2 linked regions of the Homo sapiens genome follow. The protein of the gene in region 1 purifies or fractionates together with the protein of each later gene. This does not show direct contact. Each region holds a gene or a part of one and is shown on either strand. Other genes may lie near its edges. The genes, in order: ARPC4-TTLL3 and ARPC2.

Region 1 (15,576 bases):
CCACTAGAAAAGGTCATGGTGAAAATGCAGCCCATCCTGGTGCTGGGGGCATCCCACTCCCAGAGATTGGGGCAGACCAGGGCTGTGGCCCTTTTCGCCTTGCCTTTCTTCCCCTTTCCGGGGGCTGAAGTGGTGGCAGTGGAGACTGGCTTCTCACTGTGCCCCAGGCTCCTGGCCCCAGTGCCTTTCCTAGAAGCTGACCTGTGGGTAGGGGTCCCCGAGTCCTTGCCTTCCCCAGAGCCTCGCTGGGTCAGCAGAGGGACTGCTGGGCGGACCCCCATCCGCCGATGACACATCGCCATGGGCTTCTTGATGGTGAAGCCCTCTACCAGGAGCCGGATGCCCACATATTGAGGCACCTCCACAGCAGGCTGTGGGCAAGAAGAGGAGACAAGGCCCACTCAGTCAGTGGTACTGGAATCCTTGGCCCAGCGGGACCCAGAGTAGAGATGGGTGGAATTACTTTCTGAGGCACCTGGTCAAAGAGGCGTTTCTGAGCTGAGAAATGGAAAGCCCACCTCTGAGTCAGTACCTAGAGTCACAGAGCTCCAGGAATTGCTAGCCCAGAGGAAGGGGGAATCCTAGCCATGTCCCACCAGCACCCCTCAGCCACATTTCCCTCCTAAGCTGCCCCCAGCCCCTGCTGGAATGCGTGTGGCTCCACTGCACAGGCCACTGCTGGTGGACAGCTTCCTGAGCTGAGCCAATCAGATTCTCTGCACAGAGAATTTGAGTTACGCCACCCAGACAAGTAAGAGGTTTGGAGCCTGCCTAGAGCCTCGTGTGAATCCAGGTTATGGGGTAGCAGAAACTAAGAACCTTAAAGAAGACAGTCTGTGGAGAGAATGAAGTAACGAATATGCAGAGGAAGGCAGAGAGAAGGGTCCAGGAGAGGGACTCCCTTACAACTCTCAGTTCCTATCAGGCCAAGCTGTATGTCCTGCCCTCAGCTGGGCTCCAGGAGAGCTCCCTGTGCCTTGCTAGCAACCTGGAGCCAGTTGGAGGTATCTTCTGTGCCACTGAAGGATCCTGATCAGAATCTATCTAAACATCAGAATTACTTGGAGCTTGTTAAAAATACAGCTATTGGCCGGGCATGGTGGTCACACCTGTAATCCCAGAGCTTTGGGAGGCTAAGGTTGGCAGATCACTTGAGGTCAAGAGTTCGAGATCAGCCTGGCCAACATAACCAAACCCTGTCTCTACTAAAAATACAAAAAAATTAGCAGGTCATGGTGGCAGGCACCTGTAATCCCAGCTACTCGGGAGGTCGAGGCAGGAGAATTGCTTGAACCCAGGAGACAGAAGTTGCAGTGAGCCGAGATCGCACCATTGTACTCCAGCCTGGGTGAAAAGAGCGAAACTCCGTCTCAAAAAAAAAAAAAAAAAAAAAATGCAGCTATTGCCGGGCGCGGTGGCTCTCTGGGAGGCCAAGACAGGCGGATCAGCTGAGGTCAGGAATTGGAGACCAGCCTGGCCAACATGGCGAAACCCCATCTCTACTAAAAACACAAAAATTAGCCGGCCATGGTGGGCGCCTGTAATCCCAGCTACTCGGGATCTGAGGAGAATCACTTGAATCCGGGAGGCGGAGGTTGCAGTGAGCCGAGCTAGCACCACTGCACTCCAGCCTGGGTGGCAGAGTGAGACTCTGTCTAAAAAAAAAAAAAAAAAAAAATCAAATAAAAATGTAGCTATCAGCACTCCCAAGTAGCCCCAGATGATGAGGGAAAGTTCATCTTTACAGAAGAATCTCAGCTAATAAATGCAGAAGGAACAACAGAATTAGACATTTGCCATTTTGCAACTCTAATAAAATAGGCAATAATCAAAACTGGTATCAAAACAATTAGATGAAAGGATGACAGGAAAATGTGTAATCTGGACAGAGCCAACACAGCACCTTACAGAAAAATTAATTGCAAAGGGGAGATGTAGCTTATAATGGAGAGAATCTGGTAGCCACCACTGTAACCCACAGTCAAACTCAGCAGCACTAACTGTGAGACACTCTCACAGGATGTGCCTTGTGATGCCACATGAGGTACGCGGCATCACCTCTGAAGTGCTCTTGGGAAAAATGTTTAACCTCATCAAACTATTTGACCTAACTTCTAGTTCCTGAGACAATCAGCTAACAGAAGACCAAGGTAAATCACACCATAAGGAAACAATCAGATAAATCCAGAATGTGGGACAGTTCTACAAAACAACCCGCCTGGCCCCTCAAAAGATCAAAACTATGGGGTCAAAAGGCACTGGGGCTGGCCTAGATGAAAAGAGACAAAAAAAAACAGTGCAAGGTATAAGCCTTTACTATGTGCTGGCCTAAAAACAAAAACAAGAACAAATCAGCAATAAAAGACATTTAGAGGGCTTGGCGCGGTGGCTCATGCCAGTAATCCTAGCATTTTGGGAGGCCGAGGCGGGCAAATCACGAGGTCAGGAGATCGAGACCATCCTGGCTAACATGGTGAAACCCCATCTCTACTAAAATACAAAAAATTAGCCGGGCATGGTGGCAGGCACCTGTAGTCCCAGCTACTCAGGGGGCGGAGGCAGGAAAAGCGCTTGAACCCGGGAGGCGCAGCTTGCAGTGAGCCGAGATGGTGCCACTGCACTCCAGCCTAGGCAACAGAGCAAGACCCCGTCTCAAAAAAAAAAGATATTTGGGGGGCATTTGAAAAATGCAGATATACATAGTCTCCTCCCCAAGCTAGACATTTTGGGTCAATCTCTGGGGGTGGAGCCTCCTCACATCCATACCTTTAGAAGCTTTCAGATGCTTCTGGCCTGGGCACTGGCATTGGGAGCACTGCACTACAATGGCACCTTTTCCCTCAGCTTGCTCATATTTTCCTGCCCATGTATTTCCCCGTTTACATTTTTTGAAACCAAAACGCCAATATATTAATTTAAGAAATGATCAATAACAACTGTAACAAAGGCGAGGTCACTTAGGTCATGTGATCAGTACGTTCTCTTCCTGTAACCAAACCTTGACAGAAACCGGAGGCTAATCAGAAGCCACTTAAACTGCCACAAGAAATTCTATCCAGAACTCAGAAAGCCTTGCAATCAATTTTCTGACTGATTTTTTAAAATGCTGTTCTATTTTACAAGTAGACTCCAATCTCTTTTTGGAGCAAGACGAGTGAAATAATTATAATACTACTAATAATAGTAGCTACCAGTAATTGCCTATTACTATACATTCAGGCACTTTACAGGTTATACATGATGAAACTCCTAACCTTATTAGGTAATAATAACATTAGCTAAAACTTAGTAGCATTTACTACGTGCCAGGCACTATTCTAAAGTACTTTACTGGCTGGGCACGGTGGCTTCTGCCTGTAATCCCAGCACTTTGGGAGGCCGAGGTGGGCGGATCACCTGAGGTCAGGAGCTCGAGACCAGCCTGGCCAACATGGCAAAACCCTGTATCTACTAAAAATACAAAAATTAGCCAGGCGTGGTGGTAGGCACCTGTAATCCCAACTACTTGGGAGGCTGAGGCAGGAGAATCGCTTGAACCCAGGAGGTAGAGGTTGCAGTGAGCCAAGATCATGCCACTGCACTCCAGCCTGGGCAACAGAGCGAGACTCTGTCTCAAAAATAAATAAATGAAGTACTTTACTTATCAACTCATTTAATTCTCACAACTCATAGTACCTAACTTTGTGAGTTAGGTACTATTTTTATTCTTACGGACAAGGAGACCTAGGGGTTAGGAACTTGTCCAAAGTCACATAGCTTGTTGTCACTGAACAGGAATTTGAACCCAAGGAGATTCCAGAATCTCTGCTCTTATGGCTATGCTATATGCCTCTCTAGAAATATTATCCTCATACATGAATTCATTTTATTCTCCCATTCCCATGAGAAAGATGGTAATAATATCCCCATTTCAAAGATCAGGAAACTGAGGCTCAAGGAAGTGAGGTCACCTTAGCAGGACCAGGACTTGAATCTGGGTCTTAAACTGGGTCTGACTGCAGAGTCCTATGCTCCACTGCAGGGCTGCCTGGAAGAGGGTGCAGACTCTCTGGGGTCCTGCCTGGGCCCAACCTCCTCACCTGCTTATAGATGAGCTCAAAGGCTCCTGTGTCACAGTTGCGGTCCAGCATCCGGTCAATGACCACGCGCAGGGTGTCAGCTTGCACGCCAGCACAGAGCCGGGCAGTGACTGCTGTGGAGGGTGCCATCGTGGGGCTGGCGTTGATCTCAATCAGCCAGGGCTGGAAGTCCTCCCCGAACACGAAGTCAGCGCCATAGAGCTCAAAGCTGGCCTTCCGACACTGCACGGTGTCCTGGGAGGTCTGAAGTGCGTGGATCACAGCATCCTTCATGCCAGGCACGATGATGGTGGACCAAGCATTTGGGGCACCCATCTCCTGCAGGTGGGCCTGGAACCTCTGGCTAGACCACATGTTGTCTGGCGGAAGCAGTGGATGCCGATGGCATGAGTTCTCCAGGTGCTTCTGGATGGAGTTGTTGCACAGGTGCACTGAGCTGGGGCAGAGAACAGAAAACTGAGGTCCAGGCCCTTGTGTCTCTCCCATCCAAACTCAGGGAGGACAGGCAAGTCCTGGAAGCAGCCCTGGGCCACCCTGCACTATTCAACTTGAGATGGGGCCCTACTGGGAAGGACAAAAAGGACAGAGGCCTGGGCCCCACCACATTCTTCTAGGGCCAGAACCACTCTTATCTCTCAGGGCTGCTCTGAGGGCGCTAGTTACGGGGGCCGCAGTAGTAAGTGCTTTGTGCATAGTCTCAGTTAACCATCCCAGTGTCTGGAAGATAAGAGGGTGGGTAAGGGTATGGCCCCGTCATCGCCAGGACGTGTTCAAGCGCCATCTCCACACTAGTTGTGAGACCTTAGGGAAGTCATCTAACCTGTGTGCTCTTCACATCTGCAAAATGGGGGTAGTAACAGTACCCACTTCACTGTTTTTTATATTTTTCTTCAGACCTGGTGAACAAGAAGTATGCACTGGGTTCTTATTAAGAATGAGATCATGTATACAAAGTGCTCAGCACTATCACATATGAAGCACTCAATAATTGATAGCTATGAATTTCATACTACTGCCTCCATTCTTCAGATGTGGAAACCAAGGCTTAAATAGGTTTTCACATGACCAGATTCAAACAACTTGGAAGCTGCAGAGACAGAATTGGAATTCAGGCTTTAACAAGGCTTTCTCTCACCCTAGAAGTTAACACGACATCTTAGTTTTCAAAACTCCTGACCTCCTTTCCCCTGCTCTACATTTGCTTCCCTTTTTCCCCCAACGACAAATATAATCTTTTTTTTTTTTTTTTTTTTTGAGACAGATCCTTGATCTGTCACCCAGGCTGGAGTGCAATGGCACGATCTCAGTTCACTGCAACCTCCACCTCCCAGGTTCAAGCAATTCTCCTGTCACGGCCTCCCGAGTAGCTGGGACTACTGGCGCCCGCCAACACGCCCGGCTAATTTTTATATTTTTAGTAGAGACGGGGTTTCGCTATATTGGTCAGGCTGGTCTCGAACTCCTGACCTCAGGTGATCCACCCACCTCGGCCTCCCAAAGTGCTTGGATTACAGGCATGAGCCACTGCGCCTGGCCCAAATAATCTTTTAACCTGTTAGATAATTTCACTTGTGTTCTTGCTTGCCTGTTTCTCCCTGCTAGAATGTAAGCCCTTGAGAGCTGGGATCTTGTTTTGTTCACTGCTATACCCCAAGTGCCCAGAACAGTGCATGGCACAAGGTACACACTCGGTCAAATCTGTTGGAGGGGCCAGGCATAGTGTAATCCCAGCACTTTGGGAAGCCAAGGTGGGATGATCGCTTGAGCCCAGGAGTTTGAGACCAACCTGGGCAACATAGTGAGACCCCATGTCTACATTAAAAAACTTAAAAATCAGCTGTGGTACATGCCTGTGGTCTCAGACACTTGGGAGGCTGAGGAGGAAGGATTGCTTGAGCACAGGAAGTCAAGGCTACAGTGAGCCGTGACCATGCCACTGCACTCCAGCCTAGGTAACAGAGTGAGACCGCCCCCTGTCTGTTAAAAAAAAATCTGTTGGATGCAAGGACAGCTGGCAGGATGAGGGCCTGCCTGCCTGCAGTCTGTGTGTGGAGCCTAGCGCTGCTGCGCGAGTCCCCTGCACTGTAATCGCCTGTTTGCTTGCCAGCTCCCCAACTAGGCAGGGAGCTCGTGGGAGGCGAGCAGAGGGGCTCACTTGTCCAGGTTCTTCAGGGAGAAGGGCTGCGTGGAAAAGCGGATATAGCTGTCGCGGTAGAACCACACGGTAAGTGGGTTCCAGTCAGTTACCAGGAACCACTGTCTGAGGTCAAACTTGGTGCCAAAGATGAGGAGGGGCCGCTCAATATACTTCTGCACCACCCACTTGCCGTCCTTCATCACCACGGGGTTGCCGTTCACCAGCTTCAGCATCTCCTCCAGGTGGTCCATGCACATGATGCCTACGGGGGAAGAGGGCAGTCAGGGATTGGAAGGTCAGGCGTGGGCCAGGAGAAGGGCCAGCTTGTCATGAGCTCTTGTCCCCTCGGAGCTGATAGGGCTGAGTGGGTAAGGCTGTCTCCCTCAATCAGAACCCAGTTCCCTTTGGGAAAGCCAGGAATTTGCTAAGGATTTTAAATTTTTCCTAATTAACCAGTTTTGTTTGATTAAACAGGAATACATACATGGATACAAATTTAAAGTGCTGGACTTTTTTTTTTTTTTTTTTTTTTTGAGACAGCCCTGTCACCTAGGCTGGAGTGCAGTGGCACGAGCTCAGCTCACTGCAACCTCCGCCTCCCGGGTTCAAGTGATTCTCCTGCCTCAGCCTCCCGAGTAGCTGGGATTATGGGTGCCTGCCACCACACGTGGCCAATTTTTGTATTTTTAGTAGAGACAGGGTTTCACCATGTTGGCCAGGCTGGTCTCCAACTCCTGACCTCAAGTGATCCACCCGCCTCGGCCTCCCAGACTGCTGGGATTACAAGCATGAGCCACTGTACCTGGCCAGTGTTGGGGGCTTTTTTAAAGTATGTGCACCTATTACGTTCCTACCAATAATAAATAGACTATAAAACAAAACAAAAATTAGGCAGTACGAAAGGGCATACAATAAAAAATGTATCTCCTTGTCTAGAGGCAGCCAACTGCTGCTTCCAGGACCTTATGGATATCCTTCTGGATCATGTGAAAGCCTACACGTGCCTCCGTTTCCCAGGATTGCATAAATTGAAGCACGTTGAGGATTTGGAATAGTGCTTTAGCTGCATGACTGCATTTAATCCTCACCTCACAGGAGGTATTATCATCCTCCTCATGTCACAGATGAGGGAACTGAGGTTCAGGGAGGCGCTAAAACCTGCTCAAGGTCACGAAGCACATTAGTAGCAGAGCTAGGACTCAAACCCAGGCAATTTGGCTTCAATAGACCTGCACTATTAACTTCCTTGGCCTCTACTGGTAGATGCAGGTGGTGAGGTGCCAGTGCAGGAAGCAGGAGCTGACCCCCACCTCGTCCGCGGGACTTGGCTCCTGGCTTCACGATCCAGATGTTGCGATCCCCTTCCATGTCTATCTGGGGTACCACGGCCTGCAGCTGCTGCAGGATGTCCTCACAGCGCTGGACCTGAGTGTCGAGGTGCCTGAGTTCTGCCCCTTCGCTGTGGGGAAATGATAGAACTTGGGCAGGGCTGGACCTGGGACATGCAGGTGGAGAGGGCAGGGGGAGATATATTCCACCATCCCCCGCCGTCATCCAGGCAGCCTTGGTCACGCCCTCCCTGCAGATATCCATAGGTCCCTCCCAAGCCTCCGGCCCCACCTTCAAGCCACCCCGGAAATCCTAACCTGCCCAGACTACACAAATGGGAAAGGCTGATAAAATTCCATTAACTGCAAACCACCCCCTACTCCAACACTCCACCTGTGCCACCCCCTTCCTATTACATTAAAACTGTCTTTGACAGAATTTAATCATTCCAGTTCCTAATGATAAAGCACCACTATGTGCCAGGCATTGTGACAAGGGCTTTCCATATATTTTCACGAATGCCCTCAAGGCCCTGCCAGGGAAGTATTACTAGTACCCACCCCCTACCCCCCGACTTTTTTTTTTTTTTTTTGAGACAGGGTCTTGGTCTGTCACCCAGGCTGAAGTGCAGTGGTGAAATCACGGCTCAGTGCAGCCAGGAACTCCTAGGTCCAAGTTTCAGCCTCCCAAGTAGTTGGAATTACAGGCATACGCCACCACACCCAAGCTAATTTTTATTTTTTGCAGAGATGGGTCTTATTATGTTACCCAGGCTAGTCTTGAACTCCTGGCCTCAGGCCATCCTCCTGTTCAGCCTCCCAAAATGCTGGGATTGCAGGCATGAGCTACCACACCCAGCTCTGGTCCCATTTTAGAGAAATGTAAACTGGGCCAGGCACGGTGGCTCCTGCCTGTAATCCCAGCACTTTGGGAGGCGGAGGCAGGCGGATCACCTGAGGTCAGGAGTTCGAGAACAGCCTGGCCAACATGGCAAAACCTTGTTTCTACTAAAAATACAAAAATTAGCCAGGCATGGTGGCAGGTGCCTGTAATCCCAGCTACTTGGGAGACTGAGGCAGGACAATCACTTGAACCAGGGAGGCGGAGGTTGCAGTGAGCCGAGATCGTACCACTGCACTCCAGCCTGGGCGACAGAGCAAGATTCCGTCTCAAAAAAAAAAAAAAAAAAAAAGAAAAGAAAAGAAAAGAAAAAGTAAACTGGGACGGGCATAGTGGCTCACGCTTGTAATCCCAGCACTTTGGGAGGGCAAGGTGGGCGGATCACAAGGTTAAGAGATTGAGACCATCCTGGCCAATATGGTGAAACCCCATCTCTCCTAAAAATACAAAAATTAGCCGGGTGTGGTGGTGGGCACCTGTAATCCCAGCTACTCAGGAGGTTGAGGCAGGAGAATCACTTCAAGCCAGGAGGCGGAGGTTGTAGTGAGCCGAGATCGCGCCATTGCACTCCAGTGTGGGCAACGGAGCGAGGCTCCATCTCAAAAAACAAAAAGAGTAAACTGAAGCTTTGAGAGTTAAGGGACTTACCGAAGGCCATACACTGAAAGTTGAGTGGTTCAGCCAGGATTCAAACTCTGTCCTGTCTGATTCCTCCACCCACAGGTGCTTTTTGGGGTTCATTCCTGTCTTAATCTGTGCCTAATATTGGCTGAAACAATGTTAGCCTAATTCCTTTCAAGCACTTCTATATCACACCTCTTCTTGCTTGTTTTCTTCCCATCATCTACCCCCACCTAACACATGTGCTTATTTGGTTATTGTCTGAATCCCCTAACTACAATGTAAACTCCGTAAGAGCAGGAACATTTTCTGTAGTTGTTCTCTGCTATAATCCCCATCCCCAAGCACCACACCTGGCACTCAGCAGGTACTCCCTGGAAGTTTGCTCAATGAATGAACGGTTGGCTCAGCAAGTACTTTGGTAGGAGCTTGCCTCAGCAACTGGGCTGCACGGACAGGGTTTCATGGACAAAGAGGGACCCTGTTCTCTACAAGACAGAAAATGTCCTGAACTAAACCAAGTCACAAAATACCCCAGATGGCTGCCTCATCCAGACTCTCGCATTTCTTTCCTTCTGACTGAATAGGACGGGAGCCTCCTGTTCAGGGGAAGCTAACTCTGTGACATCTTAGCATCTTGAGTGTCTCCAGTCATGGAGAACTTTCTCTTTTTTAAGGAGGAGGCAGCAGCCACTGGGGCAGTGCCAGGAACAGGGACAGCCAGATGCAGGGGGCTAGGCAAGGTCTCCCAGGAGTACTCACACCTATGTCCTGACAAACTTTTCTGTGGTCCGTAGCATGAAGTATCTTTTCAGTAATCTGTGATGTGGCCCAGGAAAATATCACACAGGAGCGTAATTTGAAAAAGTATATTCGACATGACAATATGATTTTATAGTTAGCAAAAAGAAAAAAAAAACAGTATTTTAATGAAAAGTCAGCCTGATGAAAACCTGGCTGGCTTAGTTCTTAAAATCCAGGATTTAAAAAAAAAAAAAAAAAAAAACTGGCTGTTTGTTTTTTCTTTGAGACAGTCTCGCTCTGTTGCCCAGGCTGGAGTGCAGTGGCGCGATCTCGGCTCACTGCAAGCTCCGCCTTCTGGGTTCACGCCATTCTCCTGCCTCAGCCTCCCGAGTAGCTAGGACTACAGGCACCCACCACCACACCCAGCTAATTTTTTTGTATTTTTAGTAGAGATGGGGTTTCACCATGTTAGCCAGGATGGTCTCGATCTCCTGATCTCATGATCTGCCCGCCTTGGCCTCCCAAAGTGCTGGGATTACAGGCGTGAGCCACCGTGCCCGGCCCTGCTAATTTTTGTATTTTTAGAAGAGATGGGGTTTCACCATATTGGCCAGGCTGGTCTTGAACTCCTGACTTCATGATCCGCCAGCCTTGGCCTCCCAAAGTGCTGGGATTATAGGCATAAGCCACCGCCCCAAGTGGAATTGTTTTTTTTAAAAAGTTGAGAAGCATTAACACTAAATATTGAATGAATTAGGCCGAGTGCAGTGGCTCACTCTGTTAATCCCAGCACTTCGGGAGGCCAAGGCGGGCGGATTGTTTGAGCTCAGGAGTTCAAGACCAGCCTGGCCAACATGGTGAAACCACGTCTCTAAAAAATATATATATATATGTATATATTATGTATTATATATATTATAATATATATAATACATAATATATACATACAACGATATATGTATATCACACAAAAATTTGCCAGGCCTGGTGGCACACACTTGTAGTCCTAGCTACTCAGGAGGCTGAGGTGGGAAAATCACTTGAGCCTGGGAGGCAGAGGTTGCAGTGAGCCAAGACTGCGCCACTGCACTCCAGCTTGGGTAACAAAGTGAGACCCTGTCTCAAAAAAATAAAATAAAATATTGAGGGAATGAATGAATGCTGGTCATTTGTACTGAACCATTCAACACTGTGTATGTCTGTTATATGATGCAATGTTTTATGTAATCCCGACTTTAGAGAGGTTCTTATAGCCCTCCAGAACTTGCCCCCACACACCAGAAATAAAAAGGACTCATGGCCGGGCGCGGTGGCTCATGCCTGTAATCCCAGCACTTTGGGAGGCTGAGGAGGGCGGATCACGAGGTCAGGAGTTCGATACCAGTCTGGCCTGCATAGTGAAACCCCATCTCTACTAAAAATACACAAAAAATTAGCCGGGCGTGGTGGTGGGCGCCTGTAATCCCAGCTACTCGGGAGGCTGAGGCAGGAGAATCGCATGAACCCAGGAGGTGGAGGTTGCAGTGAGCCGAGATCACGTCACTGCACTCCAGCCTGGGCAACAGAACAAGATTCTGTCTCAAAAAAAAAAAAAAAAAAAAAGGGACTCGTGCTTCATGACTAATGTTCTAAGTCTTGAAAATTCTTTTTTTTTTTTTTTTTGAGACGGAGTCTCATTCTGTCACCCAGGCTGGAGTACAGTGGCGCGATCTCGGCTCACTGCAAGCTCCGACTCCCAGGTTCAAGCGATTCTCCTGTCTCAGCCTCCTGAGCAGCTGGGATTATAGGCGTGCGCCACCATGCCCAGCTAATTTTCATATTTTTAGTAGAGATGGGGTTTCGCCATATTGGCCAGGCTGGTCTTGAACTCCTGACCTCAAGTGATCTGCCCGCCTCAGCCTCCCAAAGTGCTGGGATTACAGGCGTGAGCCACCACGCTTGGCCACCTTGATAATTCTTAATTTAAAATGGGCAGCTTTACATTTTCCAGTAGCTAAAGAGAAAGTACCGGGCCACCTGAGTTATGTCCTGGCATTTAGAAAAGATGCAGTGAATTACGTGCTAATGATGTGGATCTGCTGCTCATGTCATTCATTAGTTCTTCGGTTTCCCCTACTGAGTAATTAAATCTATCCATTTCTTCCCATTACCACCACCCCAGCTGAGATTCCTAGCACTCCCACCTGGCTTCCTGCAGGTCTCAAACCTTGAGCTGTGTCCCAGTTGAGAACAGGGGCTACGCTTCATTTCAGAACCTGGCACAATGCTTGGCACATCGGAGTTGCTCAAGAAATGCTTACTGTGTGTTCTGCCTTCAGGGCTGTTCTCCCTCCAGTTGCTCCTGCATGCTTCTCCCGAATGGAATCTCCCTAAAGCAGCACCAGGCTCACCTTGATCCTCCCTTTCCCCACCTAAGAACCTTCTTCCAAAGTGTGTTCAGAAAACACTGCCCCTCAGGATGCTTGGTGGGAGGCAGGGCACTGGGCTCACTTAAGTACAGGATAAGCAGCGCACTCTCTCTATAGGCTTACACCACCCACAGGTTCTGAAGAGTACTGCCCCAGGGAAGCCTCTTTAACTGCTTAATCCAGTGTTTTCCAAATGTGATGGACCACAAAAGCCCTTTTTTCATAAAATCTATTTACTTCCTGTAGAATTAACATCCACACAACACACACTTTGGGTAATGTGCTGTCCATTTGGTGGCACAGTCCATGCTCTTAGTGACTATGCTATGCCAAGAACCAAGAAAAGTGGCCCAGACCCTATCACGGAGGCAGTGGGAGTCCTCGAGGGTTCCTGAGCAGAACAGCGGGGTAAACGAGCGGGAGGCTTGGGGAAGGGGTAGGGGCTGCACGAGACAGAAAGGGTCTATCCCTAAGCACCTGCCCACAGCCCAAAGTCCCAGCTGCAGGGGACTCACTGGACCACTTGGTAGTAGCGCTGGAGGAAGAGGGACCAGCCCTCGGGGGTGAGGTACAGCGGGGCCTCCAGGTCCTTGTCGATGTCCATGTGGGCCAAGTTGCTAAGGTACTCCTCGCACGCACACAGAGCTTCATCCACAAACTCTGGGGACACCAACACTGGGTTTTTCTCCTGTTTCTTGGGCTGCTTGTCTCCTGCACATAGGGAGGGGCCTGTCACGATCCCATATCAAGGCAGGTAACCTGACGCATGCCACAGCCCCCATTGTCCTAAGGCCTGTCACTTACCTGAGGCCCAGCACGAACCTAGATAGATCCCCTACTGCCCTGGGATGTGTCACTTAGCTGAGGCTTTGCTCTAAATTCACTGCAACTCTAGCACTTGCCCTTGGCTCCCACTGTCCCAGGACCTGTCACTCGAGGCTCTGCCCTAAATGTCCCCAAGGCCTCTGACAGCACCTATAGCCTCTCTGCCCCTGGGACCTCTAACACACCTGAGGCTCTGCCTAAAATGCACCTGGGAGTCTTGGCCTATGTGAACCCAGTTATACATGAACGCCCCTCCCCCAAGTCTGACACAGCTTCTTAAGTCCACACACCAGAAATCCAGACCCACTCCCAGAATCCTGATACAGAGCTACAACCCTTAGCCCACAGAAACACTAACTTCTGTGTGCACTGTTACTGCACAAGGCCCTGACACACCTGAAAGTGATTACAGAAACTGACCCTTCAGAAGACCCCGTGCACATCTACAGACCTGACTCACCCCTGAACATCGCAGTGCTCTGAAGATTCTGATATACAACTGAGGCCCTCAAACCCCTGCAGCCTGACCTATACCATAAAAGCTTAAGCATGGGGTCTCTGGCCACACCCGAGGCCCTTGTGCCCCTTATCCTGGCACACAACCAAGCCTTCCTTGTGCATGACACACACAAGAGACAGCAATGGGGGAGTCTCTCTGGAAGAGGCAGGGATTTTCCTCCTTCCTGGAGAGCTGCCTCTGCTTCCCTGAATCCCTCGCTGATGGGTCCCTGGATTACAGGACTAGGAGCCTGGAGACACGAGCTAAATCCAGAAGGGAAAGGGCAGGCAGTGGTTGGGTTGGCATGCATGATAGTGAGGGTTCCTCTGTGTCCCCTCCACTCCAAGCTGTTCCTTATGTTCAGGCCTAAGCTGTTCTCAGGCCATGTGTAAAGCCCAGTTTCACTGCTTCCTCCTCCTCAGAGACCTGAACTCCTCACAGGCAGGGACGGACCATGTCTTCTTAGTCTGCCCTCTCCAGGGTGCTCGGCTACATGCCAGGCCCATGGGAGGGCTGAATGAGGAGTGGATCAACTAACAAACGGATGGGAAGACAAGTGTCTAAGTACCTGGGACAGAAGAATGGATGAGTGGATGGCCTGAAGAACAGATAGGTAGTAGATGGGAGAATGGAATAGCAGGTAGATAGATGGGTAGGTGGATCTGTGGAAGGATAGGTAGGCAGGGAGTGGATAGATGGATGGGGAGTATGGAGCTGACATCAGGTAGATGAATGACGAGATTAACAATGGGTGACAGGTGGGAGGATGGAAGGATGAGTGGAAGGGTGGGTGGGTGAATCGGTAGATCAGAGAGTGGGTGAATACGTGGGTGGATGAGTGGATGGATGGCTGGTGGATGGATGGATAGATGGGTAGATGTGAATCATACACAGATGTGTGGATGAACCAGTAGGTGCGTGGATGAATAGATAGGTAGAAGGGCAGATAGGTGGAAGGGCGGATGGGTGGAGGATAAATGGGTGGGAGAGTGGAGGTAACCACAGTACTTACCTGAGGCCTCTTCCTCTACTGCCTGAATAGGGTATGACTTCCACTCAGACTTCACCACCAGCTTGAGAACGTTGCGGGCAGCAGTCAGCCAGAAGTCCTCTGCTCCCAGGCCAGGGGATACCCTGCTCAGCCCCTAGGCTTGAGGCCTGTTCTGGTTCCAGAACCTGATCATGACTTGCCCCATTTTGGATCCAGAACCTGACTCTACCTTTTCTGACTCTAGAGCCTGAGTTTAGAACTTGCTCCTGTTTCAGGCTGGTCACGGTGGCTGACGCCTGTAATCCCAGCACTTTGGGAGGCTGAGGTGGATGGATCATGAGGTCAGGAGATCGAGACCATCCTGGCTAACACAGTGAAACCCCGTCTCTACTAAAAATACAAAAAATTAGCCAGGCGTGATGGCGGGCGCCTGTAGTCCCAGCTACTCGGGAGGCTGAGGCAGGAGAATGGCGGGAACCTGGGAGGCGGAGCTTGCAGTGAGCCAAGATCGCGCCACTGCACCCCAGCCTGGGTGACAGAGCGAGACTCCGTCTCAAAAAAAAAAAAGAACTTGCTCCTGTTTCAGTTGTGTAACCAGACCCCAAATCTGACCTGACTTGGATCATATTCTGCCTTCAGAATCTGGCTTGGACCCATTGTCTGATTTGTTTCTTCTGTTCATCACCTACTTTTGATACTTATTCTGTCCTGAGAACCAGACTGTGTCCTAGTTCAGATTCTGAATGTAATTTAAATCTAGCATAGAATCTGGATCCAAATTCTAACCTGAATTTAGAACATATTGTGGAATCGGAACCTAGTCTGCCTTAGAAATCCAAAGCCTGCAGCCTTTTTTGGAACCCAATTCAACAAATGGAACTTGATATAAGCCTGGAATCTGTTCTGGATTCCAAACTCAAGGGACTGACCAACTTTTAGAACCTGCTCTAGAATATAAGCCAAGCTACCCAAGCTTTTCTGGAGGTCAGAGTTGACCAAGCTAAGAGGCTTATTAAGGGAGGGCACATTAGGGAAGGATAAGG
Region 2 (15,576 bases), on another chromosome or scaffold:
AGATCAGGAGTTTTGAGACCAGCCTGGCCAACATGGTGAAACCCCATCTCTACTAAAAATATAAAAATTAGCCACATGTGATGGCGTGTGCCTGTAATCTCAGCTACTTAGGAGGCTGAGGCAGGAGAATCGCTTAAACCCGGGGGGTGGAGGTTGCAGTGAGCCAAGACGGTGCCACTGCACTCCAGCCTGAGTGACAGAGCAAGACTCCATCTCAAAAAAAGACCTGTGTGCTCATCACAAAGTCCTTTGCACTACAGCAGGCCTGCATGCCCCTCTTGCCCTGGTTTTCTGGAATCGTTTTTACCTGCTGCACCTCCTCTACTCACTATCTGCAAAACCCCGTCAGTTGTCTGAAGTTTTCGTTGAAATGAAAAGGAATGCCTCCTAAGGAAGTGTGGAATTTCTGTGTCAATGTGCCCTGGCCTGAAAGTAAATGAACACCACAACAGAAGACAACTATACTTCAAAGAATCTAAGGTGCTTATGACTGTAAGTCTGCCATAATTTTATGTACCACAAGAGAAACATGCTGCCAATTAAAGTGTGACATGCTATGAATTGTAAGATGCATCCCAGCTTCAAAGACAAAAACTTGAAAAAAATGGTATAGCTGGCTGGGCGCAGTGGCACACGCCTGTAATCCCAGCACTTTGGGAGGCTGAAGTGAGTGGATTGCTTGAGGCCAGGAGTTGAGATCAGCCTGGCCAACATGGAAACCCTGTTTCTTTTTTTTTTTTTTAATTTTTTTTGAGACGGAGTCTTGTTCTGTCGCCCAGGCTGGAGTGCAGTCGCGTGATCTTGGCCTATTGCAAGCTCCGCCTCCCAGGTTCACGCCATTCTCCTGCCTCAGCCTTCAGGGTAGCTGGGACTACAGGCACCCACCACCACGCCCAGCTAAGTTTTTGTATTTTTTGTAGAGATGGGGTTTCACTGTGTTAGCCAGGATGGTCTCGATCTCCTGACATCGTGATCCACTTGCCTCGGCCTCCCAAAGTGCTGGGATTACAGGCGTGAGCCACCGTGCCCAGCTGGAAACCCTGTTTCTACTGAAAATACAAAAATTAGCCGGGTGTGGTGGCACACGCCTGTGGTCCCAGCTACCTGGGAAGCTGAGGCACGAGAATTGTTTGAGCCTGGGAAGCAGAGGTTGCAGTGAGCCGAGATCACACCACTGCACTCCAGCCTGGGTGACAGAGAGAAAGAAAAAAGAAAAAAGTGTATAGTTTAGATTTAATGAAATTTGGTAAATCAACAGATTCATCACCAATAAACAGGTTCACCTTTACCACTGAGGTGAATTAAATTACATTTCACAAAGGAGACATTCCAGTGGCATTGGGTGCAGTGTGAACAAGCTTATTAATTCCAAACTGTAAGCTATCATAATCAGCCAGTGCATGAGGCTGGAGCAACTGAAGGAAGACCTGAATTTATTCCGCGAAAAAGTGGAGTAAGTGGATCACGGCTGGAGCTTGGGCTTAATAAGCAAAAAACCAAGAATTGCCAAATGACAGAGAACCCCCATCTAGCTGCTTAGGTGGTTCTCTTCTTAACTCCTTTTTTTGGTGAGATAGGGTCTCACTCTGCCACCCAGGCTGGAGTGTAGTGGTGCCATCACAGCTCACTGCAGCCTCTACCTCCTGGGTTCAAGTGATCCTCTCACCTCAGCCTCTCAAGTAGCTATGACTACAGTCATGCACCACCATGCCTAGTTATCTTTTTTTTTGAGACAGTCTCCCAGGCTGGAGCGCAGCAGGATGATCTCGGCTTGCTGCAACCTCCACTTTCTGGGTTTAAGCAATTGCCATGCCTCGCTTGCCCGAGTAGCTGGGACTATAGACTATAGGCACATGTCACCATGTCCAACTAATTTTTGTATTTTTAGTAGAGGTGTGGTTTCACCATGTTGGCCAGGTTGGTCTCGAACTTCTGACCTCAAGTGATCTGCTCGCCTTGGCCTCTTAAAGTGCTGGGATTACAGGTGTGAGCCACTGTGCCTGGCCCCTTGCTTTTTGTAGAGATGAGCCTGCACCATGTTATCCAGGCTGGTCCCAAACTCCTGGACCCAAGTGACCCACCAACCTCGGACTCCCAAAGTGCTGGGATTACAGGTATGAGCCACTGTGCCCCGCCTATCCTTTACTCTTTTCTTTTTTCTTTTTGAGACAAGGTCTCACTCTGTCATCCAGGCTGGAGTGCAATGGTGTGATCTCAGCTCACTGCAACCTCCGCCTCCTGGGTCCAAGGGATTCTTGTGCCTCAGCCTCCCGAGTAGCTGGGATTACAGGCGCACACCACCACGCCCAGCTAATTTCTTTGTTATTTTTTTGGTAGAGACGGAGTGTTTCACCATGTTGGTCAGGCTGGTCTCGAACTCCTGACCTCAGGTGATCTGCCCATGTTGGCCTCCCACAGTGCTAGGATTACAGGCGTGAGACACCGCACCCAGCCTCAACTCTTTTTTTTTTTTTTTGGAGACAAGAGTCTTGTTCTGTTGCCCAGGCTGGAGTCCAGTGGCACGATCTCAGCTCATTACAACCTCCACCTCCCGGGTTCAAGCAATTCTCCTGCCTCAGCCTCTGGAGTACCTGGGACTACAGACGTGCGCCACCATGCCCAGCTAATTTTTTTTTGTATTTTAGTAGAGACAGAGTTTCACCACATTGGCCAGGATGATCTTGATCTCCTGACCTCGTGATCCACCTGCCTTAACCTCCCAAAGTGCTGTGATTACAGCCATGAACCACCGTGCCCAGCCAAAACTGTACTTGTCTCCTTCAAGCTGGAATCGAACCAGCAACCTAAGGACGTCTCCTACTGAGGAAGTAGCTATAGTCCTCTGCTCTACCAGCTGAACTATTGAAGGGACCTTAACTCTTGATATCAGAATTCAGTCTTATTTTTAAGATTTAAGAAAAATGGGGAAAAAAAGGAAAGGATTACTGTACAAAAATAGCATATGGCCTGCTCTGTAATTAATACCCTGTGACATCCCTCCTTTAGTCACTGCAATGGCAACAGGAACAAGTTGGTATGCCTGCGTTTGCCTACCTTAAAATGTTAACCAAGGTTCTGTGCAGATTTAGGTATTCTGCTGTGTGAACTCATTAAAGCGGCACAAAAGCAGCAAGTGCACCCTGCTCACCAAAGGTAATGTAGCCAATGTTGTCACCCACAGCGGCGTCTGTGTCTTTCAGCTCCAGAGGAGGTTCCCTGTGGCTAAAGAGGACCTGTGGGGCTGTGTGGCTGGCTCTGCGTCCTTCTTTGAACTCCTGCCAAGACAAAGCAAAAGCAACCAGAAGAGAAGTGGGTGTAAGATGAGTGGCAACTCAAGCTATAGGGTTTGTTCTATGTGGTGTGACCTTTGTAGCCCTCCAGACCAGCAGGAGGTTAAAAATAAACTACACCAAACCTGAAATATGACAAGTGCTAGCTGCTACCACTACACTTCAGATTCAAACGGGAGAGACTGCAAAGTACTTAATAAGTCAGATCTTCAAAATGTGATGAAAAGTAGTGATAATCCTTTTCCTTTGCACTAACATAGGTGATAAACTACCATACTTTCTCTGGGCTCTGGGACTTTGCATGAGTCTTTTTTCACTGAGGATCCTGTTGCTATTTAGAATTCATCAATAAAATCTTTAGAGCAAACTTAAGCTCTTCTTGCGGACAGAAGACAATGGAATGAAAGAAGCTGAGTTGTCTTGGTGCTCATAAAGGAAGCCCTTCCTTCTATGTTCCAATCTCCAAACCTGAAGCTTCTACAGTCCATACATTCCTATGTAAATAGACAAGTAATACAAGGCTTCTCTCTCTCAGCCAGATCTGCAAGAACAGAAGTAGATTTTCTAGCAATGCCAGTAAAACTGGATAATCCAAATTCATCAAGTGGGCCTTCCAAGATGATAGACAGCAGGAGGATGCTGCCAAGGACTCTCCAAGGTCTCTTGTTTTAGGAGTTCTGAAGGCATGGTTACACAGCCATGTGGCCTGCGTGCCCTTCTACTGCTGCTCAAATACTGCCTCCTAATACCATCTCCAACAAACCCAGGCAGGTACTGCTCTCTTGCTGGAGCTGCCATGTCTTTTCTACAAACCTCTACTATGATATTTTACCATTCATTAATGTATCTGGCTCCCCTACCAGGTTATGAGTTCAAATCAAAGATCCTGCTTAATTTATCTTTGTAATTTATTCTTCTGTCTTTCAAAGAGGCTATGCAGCACATGCCTTGCTGAGAGAAAGCAAGTGCTTCTACCCTAGCTGGTTTAGTATCATCACACTGTACAGGAATAGGCAAGGGCTGTTTCCAGTTGCAGGCAGGAAGAATAAACACTGATTAGCAAGCCCTCTCGACAATTAGTGGCAAAAGAAAGATGATGGCTGAGGAGCCCCAATGCCCAGCCTGGGACCTCACCTATTTCACAAACTGCCTCTCATGCTAACACTACCAAGCTTTAAGTAGGAAAAGAAATGACCATCAACTGGGTTAGATTAGTCCCCTTTTGAACAGATTTTGTTCCCCGAAGGAAAAATATCCAAAAAGGAAGGGAAGGAGTCAAGATTATCCCAAATGGAAATTTCTAGAGCAAAGCTTCTAAAATCGCCCTTCTCTAGAAAACATTTTTTATTCTACAAAGGGGTTAAGAAGCTTTTTAACTTTTACTGGTTTTACTTTTCGGTATTAAGGAATTAAACAGAACAGATACGTAACTGTTGGCATTTTCTTGTGTCTGTTAAGTGTCTCCAAGGCTCTAATTCACAGGTACATGTGGTATTCACAATGAGATGGGGTATTTATAAACCAGTGGTGACTTATTAGCACTCATTAGTTTTGTATATGGAAAATAACATATTTAAGGCTCGGTCAACGATACGTTTCTGGCTTGGGCCTATTCTTTCTTTCTTTTTTGAGACAGGGTCTCACTCTGTCACCCAGGCTGGAGTGCAGTGGCGTGATCTTGGCTCACTGCAACCTCCACCTCCTAGGTTCAAGTGATTTTCATGTGTCAGCCTCACGAGTAGCTGAGATTACAGGCGTGTGCCATCATTCCCGGCTAATTTTTGGCCTTTAAAGTAGAAACAGGGTTTCACCATGTTGGCCAGGCTGGTCTCAAACTGGCCTCTAGTGATCCACCTGCCTAGGCCCCGCAAAGTGCTGGGATTACAGGCGTGAGCCACTGTGCCTGACTGGGACTATTCTTTAGATTCTCTGATGTCTTTGCTTCTCCTCAGTTCTCTCTCCTAAATAAAGCTTAAACAAACAAACACACCCAAACAGCCCTCCATCTTCATTGGCATCTTTGTTATACGTAATCAAGCAATATTGCCTTTTTACTCTCCTTCTGGCTAGGATGTCTTTTGAGCATCAGATTATTTCTCTCTTCCAAAGTACTATTTATCATAGGAAGTTCGGAATAAATCCAAATATATACAAGGCATTTAGCATATGATAAAAGTAGCATCTTAAATCAGGGGTGTAAAAAAGGAAATAATTGCCACTGGGACCACTGGATAGCCATTTAGGAAAAAAAGATCATTCTTTCATACCATACAACAAGAGGAGCTCTCAACAAATAAGAAAAAATCATGTATAAAATATGTAACTGTAAAAATACTCAGAAAATAACAGGTAAATTTCTTTATAACCTTCGAGTAGGGAAGGGCTTTCTACCTATAACTCAAAATCTAGAAGCCATAAAAGGCAAGACTGATTAATTTGATTATGTAAAAACAAACTTCCACATGGTGGAAAAAACCCCACAAAACACGGTCCAATGACAAACTGGAGAAAATATTTCAACTCTTAATCACAGATGAAAGGCTACTCTCCCTAGTATGTAAAGAAATTGAGAAGCTCAATGACCCTACAGAATAATGGGTAAAGGACATAAAGAGACACTTCATAAGAAAATCAAATGGTCTATAACATTAAGAAAAGATGTTCTGACCTCAGAACATCTTTTTATGTCATCATAAGCAGACACAGATACCACCTTTAACCTATCAGATCAGGAGAAATCCACAAGTTTACAACATACTCTGGGAAAACAGGCACTCCTCTCCATCACTGGTAGATGATAAAATGCCACTACCCTGATGGAGAAGAGTTTGGCAATGTCTACCAAAATTACTGACTTGGACTCAGTGTTCCCAGTTCAGGAAAATATCCTACAGACATACCCACACATGCAAACAGGCAGAAAGGGCCCTCAAAATACATCTTTACAACTGCCTAAGAGGCAGGTGCTTGTGTCTTTGTCCCTGAACATATAAAAACCAGTGGTTTCCACTTAACTTTTCCTGGTTATTTAGTTACTAACTTGACTTTAAAATCTTAGAATATGAAAAGAATTCTAGTTCACCATAAGCTAATCTCCAAAAGCATAATTACTGGTCCTATTGCTTTTCATGGAATAAGCATTGAAATGATGGCTTCTATCAGACATTCTCCAGTACTCAGCTGATATGCCCATACCACTAGTGTGGAGGAATACACTTCCTGTCTTTTTCTGAGAGGTAGAAAGCATCCCTCAGAGCCTGCTTGCCAAATGACAAAAGCAAGACTTGAATTCTGATCAGGCTGGATGTGCATGCTGGAAGGGAAAGGCCACAAAGGCTGGCAACAAGTAGACTAGTGACCATGAGGAACTTCAAATAGTGTTCTCAGGGTACAACTTTCTGTGCCAGGTGTCCCTCATTCTTTTTCCGAGAAATTTACAATTCCAGGCCTAGGAAAAAGTTCTATTTATTTTTTGGGAAAATCCAGCAAAAGTCCAGTTTCCGATTGTCATTTCCAACAAATTACCTAAGCCTCTGAATTTGGAAAGGGTGGCAGGGCAGATGACTTCCTGAGTCTAGCTAGCACTGCACCAGGCCAGTTACTATCCAGAGATCCTGTTAGTGCCAAAATGCAAAAGAGGCTTTGTCTTTCCTTTTAGGTAAGTGCCCTACCACAGGTACCCTGAAGGAGGCATTTAAATCATATGCCAAAAAAGAATACACAAAATTCTCCTAAGGAACAAATCTCCGGTACACTCTCCAAGATAAGATCTGTTTAAAGTATAAAAATAAGTTGTTTCCTGGAATAAAATGGAATAAGATTGGTAAAAAACCAGCCAAATCTAAATATATACTTCAGAGCTTTTAAAATTAGTTTTGTTACTCTGGATTTAGCCCAATTTCTGAGCTACTGCATTTAATTCCCCTGTCAATTCTGCATAAAAACACATGAAATGCCTCTCTAGAGGCTTACTTTTAGGACCCAAGAGATACATGTATATTTATATATTCCTTCATCAAGTTCAGCACTAGCAAATGCTGAAGTGTCAATATTCCAATTTTTCTGTATAGTGACTCCCAAACTAGTTTCTGATTAATTAGCCAAAATACAAAAGCCACTAGGGATGGAGCAGTTGAGAATATCACTTTTGAAGATTTTCCTAGCCACTTAGAAGGCTATGCAAAGTATCTTTACTGTTAAGCACAGCTGTCTTTCAACTCTATTTGGCAAAAGAGATTCTGCTTCAGAATTTAAAAATCTTTACCACCCTGCCAAGGAACAGAATGAAGGTAGTAACGTTTTCAAAAAATTTTACCATTGTACTAGATTTTGAATGCTGAGCCATCTCAGAAGAAACCAGCCTGAATGTCACTTGACCAATGAACTCTCATGTCCATCCTAGAGGCAGCAACTAACTGGCCAGCAGACTGGTACACAATGACCTGAATGCAACTACACCAAAAATCCAATTACAAAATGCCCTGCTAACTCTCAGGACTCTCTTTTTTTTTGAGTCGGAGTTTCGCTCTTTTTGCCCAGGCTGGAGTGCAATGGTGCAATCTTGGCTCACTGCAACCTCTGCCTCCCAGGTTCAAGAGATTCTCCTGCCTCAGCCTCCCAAGTGGCTGGGATTACAGGTGCCTGCCACCACACCCGGCTAATTTTTTGTATTTTTTTAGTAGAGACGGGGTTTCACCATGTTGGCCAGGATGGTCTTGACCTCTTGACCTCGTGATCCGCCCACCTCGGCCTCCCACAGTGCTGGGATTACAGGCGTCAGCCACCGCGCCTGGCCTCTCATGACTCTTCTTAAGATGAGCTTCTTGTGAGGGAAGTACTCTATGGTGACCCATCCAAACTCAGGCTCAGTCTGTCAGTTCAACAACTCTACCTGTTCATGCGTTATCTACTACCAAATAATTGGCTATACAGTCCATTCTGAAAAGACCTTAGGACCAAACCAAGAGCAGCCACCTTACTAGAAATCTGAGGAAACACAAGAGGTTAGGGTTAGGAAACCTGACAAAGTTTTAGGTCAAAGACCCCACAGTAGGAAGGATGCATAACATTCATTCATAGTTAGTATGTTTAATTCTCAACTTACCCTTTAGTTCTGTCCTGCAAAACTAAACCACTGAGAAAAAAAATATCAGGCTGGGCGCGGTGGCTCATGCCTGCAATCCCAGCACTTTGGGAGGCTGAGGCGGGCGGATCATGAGGTCAGGAGATTGAGACCATCCTGGCCAACACGGTGAAACCCCATCTCTACTAAAAGTACAAAAATTAGCTGGGCGTGGTGGCGCGTGCCTGTAATCCCAGCTACTTGGGAGGCTGAGGCAGGAAAATTGCTTGAACCCAGGAAGCGGAGGTTGCAGTGAGCTGAGTTCGTGCCACTACACTCCAGCCTGGCGACAGAGCAAGACTCCACCTCAAAACAACAGCAGCAGCAACAAAAAATATTCACTGAGTTTTGTGGGAGTTGTCTATTAAATCTTCAACAAATTCTAACGTCAAGGCTGGGCATGGTGGCTCATGCCTGTAATACCAGCACTTTGGGAGGCCGAGATGGGCATCACCTGAGGTCGGCAGTTTGAGACCAGCCTGACCAACATGGAGAAACCCCGTCTCTACTAAAAATACAAAATTAGCTGGGTGTGGTGGTGCATGCCTACAATCCCAGCTACTCAGGAGGTTGAGGCAGGAGAATTGCTTGAACCTGGGAGGCGGAGGTTGCAGTGAGCCGAGATCACTCCATTGCACTCCAGCCTGGGCAACAAGAGAGAAACTCCGTCTCGAAAAAAAAAAAAAAAATTCTAACATCAGTAGAGTTGCTAGATCTCTTTCCTACGCTCATGGTATGTTTGGGTGCAAAGGTATAAGTCGCCATGCATGGGTTTCCCCCAAGATGTCTGCTCCATACCTGCATGAACACCTTTCCAATGACCACATCGTCGTCATCCTTAAACACTGTGCTGAAGACTACTGTGACTCTGTCCTTTTTAGACTCAACATACCTGAGAGGAACAAAATCCATGAGGATAAGTACAGAATCAGAATGGGGTTTTGTCAATAACTTGATCTACAAGTACATCAGAAGGCTAAAGTCATAAATCTCTTAAATCATAATATAAAGGTGTGCCAAATGAGATGATATTTATGGTCAACAAAGTCAGTGCACAAAATGAATGCCCTAAGAGAGGCAGCAGATGGAAATTATCAGAAGTAGATTTTATTGACTTGTAAATATAACATGGACCTATGGTCACCCTGCCTGCTGATTATCCAGGCTATACTCTTAAACATGACTCAGAACAGTGGTGCCTTAAAGGAAAGCACTGGATTCTCTTTCCACCATCTGTCAGCTCTCAGTATCTGGAGAGTAGGAGGAGTGGCTGATTTCTGCCCTATCATCTACTTCCTGGCTTAAGACATTTTATGAGAAAAACATTTTCACGCAATACAGCTGAAAGTTTGACCAAGCCATATTTCTTTCAGTAAGTGCCATGGTGGTGTAGCAGCCATATCCAGGCTTCAGGACCAAATTCTATACTCACATGGTCTCATCATCCCTATAATGGATAACTGCCCTGTTCTCTCCTTCCTTGCCCTCTTCTTGGAATTGGAAGTATTTTTCAAAGACAGAGGCAAAACAATTTCGCTTCAACATGCCAGCTTGATGCACAATGGAATCCTTGGATGCCGGAAGATTTTCAAGGTCATATAGCAAAGAGACATTGTATCCTGGAGGGAAAGAAAAAACAAGAAACAAAAAACAACCCAGCAGTTACATTTAAAAAAAAAAAAAAAAAAAAAAGCAGCATACTATCTATACCAAGTAAACAGAGACTAGAGGCAACTAAAAAAATCTTTTTTCAGGTTCTATTGACATTTTGTCTCATTATCTGTACTTTTAACCTGGGTAGAATATAGTCTATTTCCATCTATCTCACAGGGCAAAATGAGGTGAAATAAAATCTTAATTTTTATAAGATTCTTGTAAATATATATAATTAATGTTAATCAAAAATTTGAATCAGTATCAAAGATGACTAATTACAAATATGTAATGGGAGAAAGTCAGAACCTGGGAACTCTGATTGGAAATGTACCCTTCTAGACACAGTTGTAAAGGAGCCACATATATTTCTCTGATAGTTTAATGTGCCAAGTATCAGTATGGCCAGCAAATGGGTAGCTTTGTGATAATAAGATAAACCCTTCTACGTGCCACTGCAAACTCTTTATGAGGTGGCAGGGTAGAAAAACCAACTACCTGTTCATACATATACCTCCCCAATAGCTTTTATTGGTATATATTGTACAATTTTTAAAACATTTTACTTCATTTGATCTCCATAACCACCTTTGAAGTCTGCAGGCTAGATAAGGTTACTGTTTTGCAGAGGGAAAAGGAGATTCAAAGAAGTGACGTGACTTGCCAAATGCAGCATGACACATAAGTGTAGGGCACTCTATTTTGAGTCGAACAGAACTGGGTCCAAATCCTAGTCTTGTCATTTTGTGACCTTAAAAAAACTGCTGGGTGTGGTGGCTCACACCTGTAATCCCAGCATTTTGGGAGGCCAAGGTGGGCAGATCACCTGAGGTCAGGAGTTTTGAGAGCAGTCTGGCCAACATGGCAAAACCCTGTCTCTACTAAAATCACAAATATTAGCCAGGCATGGTGGCGGGCGCCTGTAATCCTAGCTACTTGGGAGGCTGAGGCAGGAGAATTGCTTGAACCCAGGAGGTGGAGGTTACAGCGAGCTGATATTGCACCACTGCACAACAGAGCGAGACTCCAGCTCCAAAAAAAAAAAACAAAAACAAAAAAAATTGCCTGACTTGTTAATTTCCTCATCTGTTAAAAAAAAAAAAAAATTGGTGGTGGGGGGCAGGTAGGGTGGTCTGGGCACAGTGGCTCAAGCCTGTATTCCCAGCACTTTGGGAGGCCAAGGTGGGTGGATCACCTGAGGTCAGGAGTTCGAGACCTGCCTGGCCAATATGGCAAAACCCCGTCTCTAATAAAAATACAAAATTAGCTGGGTGTGGTGGTACACGCCTGTGGTCCCAGGTACTCCGGAGGCTGAGGCAGGAGAATTGCTTGAACCCGGGAGGTGGAGGTTGTAATGAGCTGAGATCGCGCCACGGCACTCCAGCCTGAGCAACAAGAGTGAAATTCTGTCTCAAAAAAAAAGAAAAAAAGAAAAAGGAGCAGGGCAGGGGGTGCGGAGATAGGGGAGAATGTTGTGAGCATTAAAAGAATGTTCAATACTTAAAGTGTGTGGAACATGACAGGTCATCAATACGGGTGCAGAACATGGACTGAAACCATTGGATGACCTGCCTTTTTACAGCATGTCCACTATGAATTCCCAGAAGCCGGCTGGAACACTTGATTATAGAATCAAATGATTAATAAGTGTCAAACTGCCTAGAGATGTTTTTGCAAGAATATTTCTACATCACTGAGGATCATTTTATATTCTAGGCAACTGACGGGAATAACTTCACCAGAACTGTATGGCTTTCACACTTCTAAGTATCTGAAACCTCATTACTATTTCATTTTTTCCCAAAAGCATTCCTGAGATCTGTATTTTTTTTTTTTTGAGATGGAGTTTTACTCTTATTGCCCAGGCTGGAGTGCAATGGCATGATCTCGGCTCACCACAACATCCGCCTCCCAGGTTCAAGCGATTCTCCTGCCTCAGCCTCCTAGGCAGCTGGGATTACAGGCATGCGCCACCAGGCCTGGCTAATTTTGTACTTTTAGTAGAGACGGGGTTTCTCCATGTTGGTCATGCTGGTCTTGAACTCCTGAATGCAGGTGATCCGCCCGCCCTGGCCTCCGATAGTGCTGGGATTACAGGCATAAGCCACCGCGCCCGGCTGAGGTCTGTGTTTTTTGTTGAGCATGGGCTCTTCGGGAGGATGGGCTAAATCTTTGCTCTAGATAATGCTTAGCACATTTTATTTAATACTGGAGAGGCACTCCAGTATTAAATAATATCAATCATCATTCTATTTTGGGTACTTGAAAACCAAATAAGCACACAGATTACAAGGTTAGATTAAAAAAGAAAAGATTTAGAGCTGAGGTTTGCTAGTTTTAGGAAGCCAAATAAGAGCAAATAAAACTATAGCTAAGGTAAAGTCTGTCTTTAAGTAAGGCTTCTAACATGATGAACAGAATATACTGAGGATGAAGAGAAGTAAAAATCTAGTATAACTTGCTGAGTTTTCCAAACGTGCCTAGATAAACCCATTAAAAAAGAGGAGGAGAGACTCTACGGTCTTTTTTTTTTTTTTCTCGAGACTGAATCTTGCTCTGTCGCCTAGGCTAGAGGGCAGTGGCGCAATCTCAGCTCACTGCAACCTCTGCCTCCTGGGTTCAAGCGATTCTCGTGCTTCAGCCACCTGAGTACCTGGTATTACAGGTGGCTGCCACCATGCCTGGCTAATTTCTGTATTTTTTATAGAGACAGGTATCTCATTATGCTGCCCAGGCTGGTCCTGAACTTCTGAGCTCAAGCAATTCACTCACCTTGGCCTCCCCAAAGTGCTGGGATTACAGGTGTGAGCCACTGCACCTGGTTGAGACACTACTTTCACACACTTTTACATTTCACACTTCTATGAAGACAGGGTCTGCAATCTGGCAATGTCTATGATTTAGTGGGAGGTAGAAGGAGGCCCAGGGACAGAAACATAAACTTTCCATGTCAGGATGTTGGCTGTGACAAGCATGCCCAAGACTTTGGACATGATTTTTCTGTTCTAGATCTGTTTGTTTCTTTCTTTTAATACCTTGATTTTGCCAAAAGCCTACAGTGTTATCTTGGCTTTTATTTCTGTGACACATTCATCCCGCCAATTTGGAGATTAAAAAAAAAAAAGGTGCTGGGTATGGTGGCTCATGCCTGTGATCCCAACTCTCTGGGAGGCGGAGGCTGAGGTGGGTAGATTGCTCAAGGCTAGGAGTTTGAGACCTCCTTACTCTGTTTTGGCAGTATGGGCAGCAGACAGTGAGACTCTGTTTCTACAAAATATTAAAAAAATTAATTGGGTATGGTGGCATGTGCCTGTAGTTCCCAGCTACCGGAGAGGCTAAAGCGGGAGGATTGCTTGAGCCCAAGATTTGGAGGAGGCTGCAGTGAGCTATGACTGTACCACTGCATTCCAGCCTGGGCAACAGAATGAGACTGTCTGAAAAAATAGGTGAGGTGATGAAATAAGCTAGCACAAGTAACTGCTGTTAAGAGTGACAGAGAACTTCCTTCTTAGAAGACTTTTCTAATCAAGGTACCAAAGTTGTAATAGTTGAGTAAAAAATATTATGTTCCAATGGTCTTACTACCTGGTTCTCACTTTGGGGTCCTGCTAAATGCCTCAGAATTTGAGACATGCCACTGAATCACAGGGTAAAAAGGCTGTTCAGTTTTTCCACTTTAAACCTCCTTTTTAAAGCAGTATAACATAGCTGTTCTATTCAAGGATGACACGGTGCCTTTCAATTCCTCTGGCCATGAATGTTGAGACAACCTATTAGAAGACTGGATTAAGAAAGGGTCTGATTTTTATTACTTGAAATCACAAGAATAGTGTGGTGAATATTCCTCTTCTTTCTCCAAATATGTAGTATGCAGAATTACTAAGGGCCGAGGGTGGGAATCAATGTTTGCTCATTCTTTTCAAAGCCATTTTAATCACCATGAACAAACAAATGTGGCCCTCTGGCTGAAAGATTAAGTAAGAGTCATGTGGCCCCATCAAGTAAATGTTAAAAATGTCACACATCAATTTTGTACCTCTACTGTGTTCCATATTGGACAAAGCAAAGCCCCTTAAAAGCTATTTTTATGGACGGAGTTGAAATTAGGAATGGGCTCATGCAGAAATATTTGTAATAATATTTAAACGAAATCCTTTGGGTAAAAAAAGCATAATATAAAAAGGACACCTCTCTTCCCATGTCATTCCATAGTTGCTCACATGACTACATACCTGATTCTGGATTTACCAAGAAACTCCCGTACACCCTCTTTAATAACTAGAAAATAAAAACAAAACAAAACCAAATACGTTAATCCAAAGGCCATGATAATTTCATTATTTTTAAAGTACTGCACTTGCCAAGCTCTTCCTAAGTTGGCATTCTTCCTAACTTTCATTTGGTGGATGGGAAAGTAGAGACAGAGGGGAAGTGGATTTAGTCACCAAACAAGTCACAAAACTGAGATGAGTATCTTTTTATGCCTGGGACAGAGTGCAATGGCGCGATCTCGGCTCACCACAACCTCCGCCTCCTGGGTTCAAGTGATTCTCCTGCCTGAGCCTCCCAAGTAGCTGGGATTATAGGCATGCGCCACCATGCCCGGCTAATTTTTTTTTGTATTTTTAGTTGAGATGGGGTTTCTCCATGTTGGTCAGGCTGATCTTGAACTACTGACCTTGGATGATCCACCCGCCTCGTCCTCCCAAAGTGCTGGGATTATAGGCATGAGCCACTATGCCTGGCCGAGAATCTTTAATCAAAGCTCATCCTTTTTTAGGACTTGACTACACCCTTAATATGTTCTCTGTTCTCCTCCAGATCCTACATTGTACTTAATCATGTTTTGTTTTCAAGAGAGCAAAAGGATGCCAAATTCCAAGTGAGAGAACAGATTGTTAGTTATCAACCTAAGTACAGACTGAGCCACTAACCCAGGTGAATAAAGAGAAAAAACCAGGACTCTCGGGAACTGATCTGTTTGTCTGCTGATCTTGTATGCTTTAAAATTACTCAGTGCATAGCCAGCTCTTAAGGCAAAGGACAGTCAATAATGAAATCTTAGCTAGCTATTAATACTGGTGTCCAGAAGGTTGTATACTCTCCATGTCTTTCCCCCCAAACCAGAACCTACTGCTGGCTACTTTCCAGGTTTTTGAATTAAATGAAAACAACAACAAAAAAAACCCAAAAAACCAAGAACCCCTTTTATACCTTCTGCTATGGTTTGAATGTCCTTTCGAAAACTCATGTTAAAAATTATGATTTTTTTTTTTTGAGACGGAGTCTTACTCTGTTGTCCAGGCTGGAATGCAGTGGTGCAATCTCAGCTCACTGCAACCTCCATCTCCTGGGTTCAAGCGATTCTCCTGCCTCAGCCTCCTGAGTAGCTAGGACTACAGGCATGCACCACCATGCCTGGCTAATTTTTCCACACCCAGCCAAAATTTACGATTATTATTATTGTTTTGGAAGCAGGGTCTTACTCTGTAGTCCAGGCTACAGTGCATT

What was found.
Region 2: the proteins of ARPC4-TTLL3 (region 1) and ARPC2 purify together in Homo sapiens (affinity purification with mass spectrometry; 2 studies listed by BioGRID, with this or other methods). This does not show direct contact.

Annotation. Positions count from the first base shown.
Region 1 is NC_000003.12:9,817,899-9,833,474, reverse strand, and holds part of ARPC4-TTLL3 (ARPC4-TTLL3 fusion protein), read right to left. Parts: intron 14,921-15,576; exon of another isoform or gene 14,654-14,920; coding exon of another isoform or gene 14,555-14,653; intron 12,930-14,554; coding exon 12,734-12,929; intron 7,676-12,733; coding exon 7,527-7,675; intron 6,479-7,526; coding exon 6,235-6,478; intron 4,516-6,234; coding exon 4,080-4,515; intron 372-4,079; coding exon of another isoform or gene 1-371. Other genes in the region: tubulin monoglycylase TTLL3, read right to left, coding at 230-371, 4,080-4,515, 6,235-6,478, 7,527-7,675, 12,734-12,929, 14,555-14,653.
Region 2 is NC_000002.12:218,233,119-218,248,694, reverse strand, and holds part of ARPC2 (actin-related protein 2/3 complex subunit 2), read right to left. Parts: intron 14,344-15,576; coding exon 14,298-14,343; intron 10,032-14,297; coding exon 9,845-10,031; intron 9,305-9,844; coding exon 9,211-9,304; intron 3,276-9,210; coding exon 3,149-3,275; intron 2,870-3,148; exon of another isoform or gene 2,777-2,869; intron 1-2,776. UniProt on the Homo sapiens protein: Actin-binding component of the Arp2/3 complex, a multiprotein complex that mediates actin polymerization upon stimulation by nucleation-promoting factor (NPF).